Homo sapiens: one gene and its partner. The protein of the gene in region 1 interacts with the protein of each later gene in a pairwise test. Each region holds a gene or a part of one and is shown in the gene's direction. Other genes may lie near its edges. The genes, in order: GSTO2 and PWWP3A.

Region 1 (3,817 bases):
AGGGACAAAGAGGACCCCACTAACGAGGGTTGGAGAGGGAGGTTTAATTAGAGAGATTTTGAGGAACTAAGATGAGATGAAATCTGAGGAAGGAGTAGGAGTTATGGAGGATGGTTTCCAAGTTTGTGGCCGGTAAATGTGATGCTTTTCACTAAGAGTTTGAGGGAAGACACATTTTGTCAAATTTGTGGTGTTGATGGGATATTCATATGCGGGCAGAGCTTAGAAGAACAATGTATGGTCTCTACTGGACCTTTGGAATGGTTTTATGGGCTAGGAGCTTTCACCAGAGAGTTTAGGAATGTCATTAGTGGGGTGGTGATAAATGTTTAAGAATCAATTTTCTCTTAAAAGAGAAAGAAAAAGAAAAAGCACGGATTTATAGCATTTGCTGATTTGGGTGGTGTAAACACTTCCGTCAAGGTTAATTTTGAGCTACCAATGTGCTATTTCTAAACTCAAGAGCTGGCAAAAGATGTGGGCAGCTCCAGCATGTCACTGAATAAGAAATTTCACTTTATCTTCAATAACTGAGCCCCAGGAACACTGTTGTTAACCAGCCTCTATATAGGTAGCTTTCACTAACCAGCCTCGGTGTAGGTAGCTTTCACTGATGCTATTTAAGGACCACTGAGTACTCCACATTGTCCTAACAGGTTTGAATGTGGTTTTGTCCCATAGAATGTTAGCAAGAATTGTAGCTATGGCTGGGCGTGGTGGCTCACACTTGTAATCCAGGCACTTTGGGAGGCCAAGGAGGGAGGATCACCTGAGGCCAGGAGTTCAAGACCAGCCTGGGCAACACAGTGAGACTATGTTTCTACTAAAAATTAAAACATGAACTGGTCATGGCAGTGCGGGTCTGTAGTCCCACCTTCTCTGGAGGCTGAGGCGGGAGCATCTTTTGAACCCAGGAGTTTGAGCTTGCAATGAGCTATGATCGTGCCACTGTACTCCAGCCTGGGTGACACAGCAAGACTCTGTCTCAAAAACAAATAAACAAAGAATTATAACTACAATGTAGGAAATATTGAAATCTGAAAACATGACCAATGTACTTGAATTATGCGATCTGTTCCTTTAAATGCCAAAATATTTATTCCAGGAGATTCTAGTGAAATTGAAATTTATCAGAATAATTCTAATGGAGAGGATCCCCTGATTTATGTAACTCTTTCACATGGTTTTGCACAATCAGGATTTTTTGTGAGCTAAAAATATATTAAATACTCATTGTCTTTCTGAGTGATAAGCAAGCCAAGATTTCATGCATAATCTTCTGCTATGTTATCCTGAAACAGAAGGCTCAGTTAACCTTTTGTGGCCTTAAACTCTGACACTTTCTTCTTTTGAAATAACTGCCTTGTCTAACTTTTTAAGTTTTTTTTTTTTTTTGGCTTGTTTTTTTGTTTGCTTGTTAGTTTTTTAAATCTAGTTTCAGGTGGGTTCAGTGGCTCATGCCTGCAATCCCAGCACTTTGGGAGGCCGAGGCGGGCAGATCATTTTAATCCAGGAGTCCGAGACAAGACTGTACAACATGGCAAAACCTTATCTCTACAAAAAATACAAAAATTAGTTGGATGTGGTGATGCATACCCGTGGTCCCTGCTACTTGGGAGGCTGAGGTGGGAGGATCACTTGAGTCCAGGAGGTCAAGGCTGCAGTGAGCTATGATCATGCCACTGTACTCCAGCCTGGGTGACAGAGTGAGACTTTGTCTCCAAGAAAAAAAAAATTAAGTTCCATCAAAATCAAAGATTTATTGTGCTTGTTATATAACCACATTTTTCTCTAATATCTTTTACAATTCTTTGAGATATATTACTGCCACTTTTATTATCAAACTAGCAGCCTGCTCACTGGCTTTCCTGTTCTGAACATTGGCATGAGTTTTAAAACTATGACACTTGTCTTGTCTTGCTGCACTTTATGTCTTCAAGCAGATTTTCTAGCCCTTACTGAATCATTACTCTAAGCAGCACACATTTTTTAGTTTTATTCTTTTTCAGGTATTGACTTTCCCATTTCAGAATGGGACTTGAGCCAGGCTTCATTTGATCTTTGTGGATTTGAATGTGGCAGGACCTCTTGGTGTCACTTTTTATCTGTGCCTTCCAAAAATATTTTCATTATGGAAGTAGTCAAATCAAGTCCAAGTGCAGTGAAAGGTGGATTTGGTCAGATTTCCTTGAGGCTTTGGAGTTTTGCTTTAAATCTAGAAAGTGTTCGTGGCTTCTGAATTGGTTCTGCACTCTGACTATTGCTTGGTCCTTTCTTCGTCATCATCAGAGCTCCATAAAAGAGAGCGGGGAGGGGATAACATAAATAATGCTGAAATAGCCCTGAGGGATGAGACATGGCCCAGCAACTGAAGCCTTCGTCTGCCCGTGGCCACAGGGCACTTTATGGTTTTGCTTCTTGTCATTCAACCACCTGCCTTGGGGTGCTTCACTTTGCATTTCCACGCAGAGTTTCCCGCATTGCCAAACTTGATCATGTGCCTTATGTGTAGCAGTTTGCATGAGGTGGAATTTGCATAAATTATGTGTGCATCACCCAGGAGCATCTGTAGTTAAATACTTTATTGATTCTAAATTTTGCCCATAATCTTAATTTTTTAATTATTTTATTTTCTTTTCCTCTTTTAGAGATTGGGGTCTCTCTCTATTGCCCAGGTTGGAGTGCAGTGGCACAGTCATGGCTCACTGTCGTCTTGAGCTCCTGGGCTCAAGCAGTACTTCCACCTCAGCCTCCCGAGTAGCTGGGATTACAGGCTGAAGCCACCGAGCCTGCCTCCGTTATCTTAATTATTATTATAATTATTTTTTTGAGTCAGGGTCGCACTCTGTCACCCACATTGGAGTGCAGTGACACAATCACGGCTCACTGCAGCCTCAGCCTCCTGGGCTCAAGTGATTCTCTCACCTCAACCTCCTGAGTAGCTGGGACCACAGGTTCAGGCCACCATGCCCAACTGTTTTGTTTTTGTTTTTATTTGTTTTAATTTTTTGTGGAGACGAGGTCTCACTATGTTGCTCAGGCTGGTCTTGAACTCCTAGGCTCAAGTGATTCTCCCACTTCAGCCTCCCAAAGTGCTATGATTACAGGCATGAGCCACTGCACCTGGTAATCTTAATTTTTAAACTGTTCTTTCTTCTCATCAAAAAAGACATTTATTCAAGTTAGATTATATTGTCTTGGTTTAGTTTTGCTTTTGCTCTTTCTTAATTTTTATTAATTTCCAGTGATGAAATTATTTATATATTGTTTAATTGTTTCTCCTTTGATATCACCAGGATAGGAAGAAAAGAAAGTTTATACCTGGTTAATTCGTCACTGAAAACAATTTTCTGTATCCTTTTATATATAGTAGACTACAAGCTAAATTTTTTATCATCTAAGTTAACATGTCTATAAACTAAATTCATTATTACTAGCTATTTTTAATAAGTTATTGAGATATAATTCATATGCCACAAAATTCACCCTTTTCCAGTGTACAATTCACTGGCTTTTAGTATATTAAGTGAGTTGTGCAACTATCACCAGTATTTAATTTCAGAGCGTTTTTTTTATCATCCCCCAGAAAAACTGCTCACTTGTAAGCTGTCATTTTCCATTTCTTCTCAATCCCTGTGGCTGTACGCAGCCACTGATCTGCTTTCTGTCTCTATGGATTGACTTATTCTAGACACTTCATATAAGTGGAATCATACAACATGTAGCATTTCATGAGCTATTTTCACATACCATAATGTTCTTAAGGTTCATCCTTCATTCTTTTTTATGGCTAAATAATATTCCATGTGTGAATACG
Region 2 (3,802 bases), on another chromosome or scaffold:
TTTTTTTTTTTTTTGAGTTGGAGTCTCGCTCTGTCACCCAGGTTGGAGTGCAGTGGCGCAATCTCGGCTCACTGCAAGCTCTGCCTCCCAGGTTCACGCCATTCTCTTGTAGCCTTCCAAGTAGCTGGGACTACAGGCGCCCGCCACGACGCCCGGCTAATTTTTTGTATTTTTAGTAGAGACGGGGTTTCACCATGTTGGCCAGGATGATCTTGATCTCCTGACCTCGTGATCCACCCCCCTCAGCCTCCCAAAGTGCTGGGATTACAGGCGTGAGCCACCACTCCCGGCCACAGTTTTTTTTTAAGCCCATAAATACTTCAGTGTGTGTCTCTAAAAGGAGGGTGATTCTGCCCCCTGGGGGACACTGGCAGTGTCTGGGGACATCTGTGCTTGTCACAGCTAAGGGTGCTTCTGGCATGGAGTGGGTTGGGGCAGGGACGCTGCTCAGCACCCTGCAGCGCCTAGGACAGCCCCACCTCAGAGAACAGTCTGGCCCCGACGTCCACAGGGCCGAGTGGGAGAGACTCTGCTCTGAACCGAATGGACTCTGTTAAAAATGTGTTTACCATAATCACAAAAGTAAAAAATAGGGATGATTTCTTAATGTCAGGTATGTATTGTGTATTCAGGATACTCTTTTTTTTTTATAACAATAAACTTAAGGCCGGGTGTGGTGGCTCGCATCGGTAATTCCAGCACTTTGGGAGGCCGAGGCAGGTGGATCATGAGGCCAGGAGCTTGAGACCAGCCTGGCCAACATGGTGAAACCCCGTTTCTACTAAAAATACAAAAATTAGCTGGGCGTGGTGGCGCGTACCTATAATCCCAGCTACTCGGGAGGCTGAGGCAGGAGAATCACCTGAACCCGGGAGGCAGAGGTTGCAGTGAGCTGAGATTATGCCATTGCGCTCCAGCCTGGGCGACAGGGCGAGACTCTGTACCAGAAAAAACCGCCACCAAAAAAAAAACTTAAAATTTTTGAGAAATGCTCTTGTGGGTTTGGGTCTTGCCTTTTCTTCTCTGCTTTTAGTGATCTGAGCTATTGTGTCTAGTCCGAAAGATAGTACTGATTTAATTAAGAAACATCATTACAAGCAGGGATTCATGGACTAGGTTTGCACCTTCTGAACCATGAGCTAGACCATGTCTGGAGGCTGGAACCTGGTGACCCAGGCTCCCTGCGGCCTTCTTAACCGCAGGCCACTTGGGGCCAGTTGGGCAGTGCCTGCTGCTATTGAGCCCCGTGCCCTCTCACAGGCCATCATCTGTGCGATCTCTGCGGTGGACGAGGTGGACTACAAGACGGCTGAGGAGAAGTACATCAAGGGGCCTTCGCTGAGCTACCGGTAGGCCGCTCCCGGCGCTATCTCCAGCCACTTGCGTCTCTGCCTTGCAGTTTCTATTTCCACACCCACAGGCAGTTTGACTCCAGGCTGCCGCAGCCCCTCTCCCTCATGAGGTGGCCCAGGTGCTGGGTGGTGAGCTGATCACATACGCTGAACTCACCCTGTGGGTCACTCCTGCCCCCCAGGAAGGCTGTGCCCGGGTCTCCCAGCTGGTCGCTGTGGGCAGCACGGGGCCACGGGCACGTGCCTGGGCCGTGTCTGTTCTTAATCTCTTTTTGCAGGGGCTGATGTTTGCTTTTTGCACTTTCCTCCCCTCTTTCCACAGCCCCATGGCTGTGTGAGAAATACAGCAAGATTAAGCAGCAGCACGGCCCGGTGCTTTCCAGCAGCCAGAAGAATGCTGTGATCAAGATGTTTCTCTCACATCCGTGTGCTTAGCTGCCCTTGGATGTTTGGCCCCCAGAGCGCCTAATCCTGTCTCTGGGCATGCGGCCAGGCCTTGCTGGGAGCCAGGCGGGGCCCACGGGGCAGTGACAGGCTGAAGACTCAACTAGAGTCAAGGACAGGGTCTCCGGCCAGGGTGGCTTGCGCAGCCACCGACGTCTCCCGGGCCCACAGTCACAGGAGACTCCTGGTGAAGACACTGAACTCCCTCACCAGCCCCATGTCCTCCCTGGGCAGGGCAGGAGGGGCCCCTGGAGAGGCCAGGGAGGAGGTGTGGGGCCTCGGTGGCATTGGCAGGCCACCCCCGCAGAGCTGCACAAAGGTGGAATTTGGCCTTGTTTAGGGAGTGTTGGCCCAGCTGGCTTACCAAAACAGGAAAGGCCTTTGGATACAGAAACTGGGTGTTTTCCTGCTGGATCTTCATGGTTCCCCCGTCATGCTTGCCGTAAGAATAAGTGAGGTCCGGGGAGGGGGTAAGGTCGGAGCCAGGACACCTGGACCCAGCCTGCTGGTTTGTCCTCTCCCTCCGTCTCAGAAGCCTCTTCACCGCTCCACGCCCATCTGTGGAAATCTTTCATCCTGATTTTTTTTTTTGAGTCTGGGTTGCCGACATCAAAACCCGTTAGGAGTTCATCACAGCTTCCAGTTGCCATGAAAGCCTCCCGTGACCTGTGAGAATGGTGCTGGTGCTGATGGAGAAGTTACTTGGGCTGAGCACACAGGCCGTGATTTCATCACGCCGGGGACATGCTCAAAATAACAAGCCAGTGAGCAGCATCGCACTTGATCTTTGGCCTCAGTGGAGCCTTGGGTCACACACTGGGCGTCCTGGGACCCAGTCTCCCCGCCGCACGGCGTTTCCCAGGCCCTCTTGTTCTTTTAGAGTTGCACCATGAGCCTCTCTGCACTCTTCCCAAGGCTGTCCTCCTCAGGTCTGCCTTTCTCTGGTGCTGCGGCCGGTGTGCTCTCCCCTATTTCCAGGTCTGCTGGGGCGCACATCAGAGCCAGCAGCCGTTGTTGATCTCTTTTGATCCAGGGCAGCCCTATTGCTGAGAGGGGTTGCTAGCTAAGCAATTGTTATAATTTTCCTTTACAGGGAGGTCACTTAGTAAGGACAATTTGGCATCTCATACTCTTTCGTAAAAAATTATTTTTAGTCAGTCACAGTGGCTCATGCCTGTAATCCCAGCACTTTGAGAGGCTAAGGTGGGAGGATCCTCTGAGCCCAGGAGTTTGAGGCTGTAGTGAGCCATCATTATGCCACTGCACCCTAGTCTGGGTGACAGAGCAACACCCTGTCTCTAAAAATAAATATTATTTTAAAACATTGTTAAGGCCTGGTGCGGTTGCTCACGCCCATAATCCCAGCACTTTGGGAGGCCGAGGCAGGTGGATCACGAGGTCAGGAGTTCGAGACCATCCTGGCCACCATGGTGAAACCCCATCTCTACTTTAAAAAAAAAAAAAAACCAAGCATGGTGGCACGCGCCTATAGTCAGTCCCAGCTACTCAGCAGGCTGAGGCAGGGGAATCGCTTGAACCCGGGAGGTGGAGGTTGCAGTGAGCTGAGATTGTGCTACTGCATTCCAGCCTGGTGACAGAGCGAGACTCCGTTTCAAAAAAAAAAAAAAATATTACACATCCTGTAAAAGTTACCATCCTAACCTTCTTAAGTGTATGGTTCGATGGCGGTGAGCACTTTCACAGTGCTATGCAGCCGGTACTGCTGCTCATCTCCGAACTTCATCTTTCCAAACTACAGCTCTGTCCCCATCAAACAACTGCCCTCTCATATATATATAATATATATTATATATATAAAATATATATAGCCATATATATTTATATATAATGTATATTATATAAAATTTATATATTATATAAAATATATAAATTTTATATATAATATATAAAATCATATAATTTATATATTTTATATATAAAATATATATTATATATAAAATATATTATATATAAAATGTATAATTTTATATATTATAATATATACA

What was found.
Region 2: the proteins of GSTO2 (region 1) and PWWP3A interact in a two-hybrid assay, tested with the Homo sapiens proteins (one large-scale study listed by BioGRID).

The regions. Positions count from the first base shown.
Region 1 is NC_000010.11:104,282,639-104,286,455, forward strand, and holds part of GSTO2 (glutathione S-transferase omega-2), read left to right. Parts: intron 1-3,296; coding exon of another isoform or gene 3,297-3,329; exon of another isoform or gene 3,330-3,352; intron 3,353-3,817. UniProt on the Homo sapiens protein: Exhibits glutathione-dependent thiol transferase activity. Has high dehydroascorbate reductase activity and may contribute to the recycling of ascorbic acid. Participates in the biotransformation of inorganic arsenic and reduces monomethylarsonic acid (MMA).
Region 2 is NC_000019.10:1,371,812-1,375,613, forward strand, and holds part of PWWP3A (PWWP domain-containing DNA repair factor 3A), read left to right. Parts: intron 1-1,260; coding exon 1,261-1,349; intron 1,350-2,136; coding exon of another isoform or gene 2,137-2,238; intron 2,239-3,802. UniProt on the Homo sapiens protein: Involved in the DNA damage response pathway by contributing to the maintenance of chromatin architecture.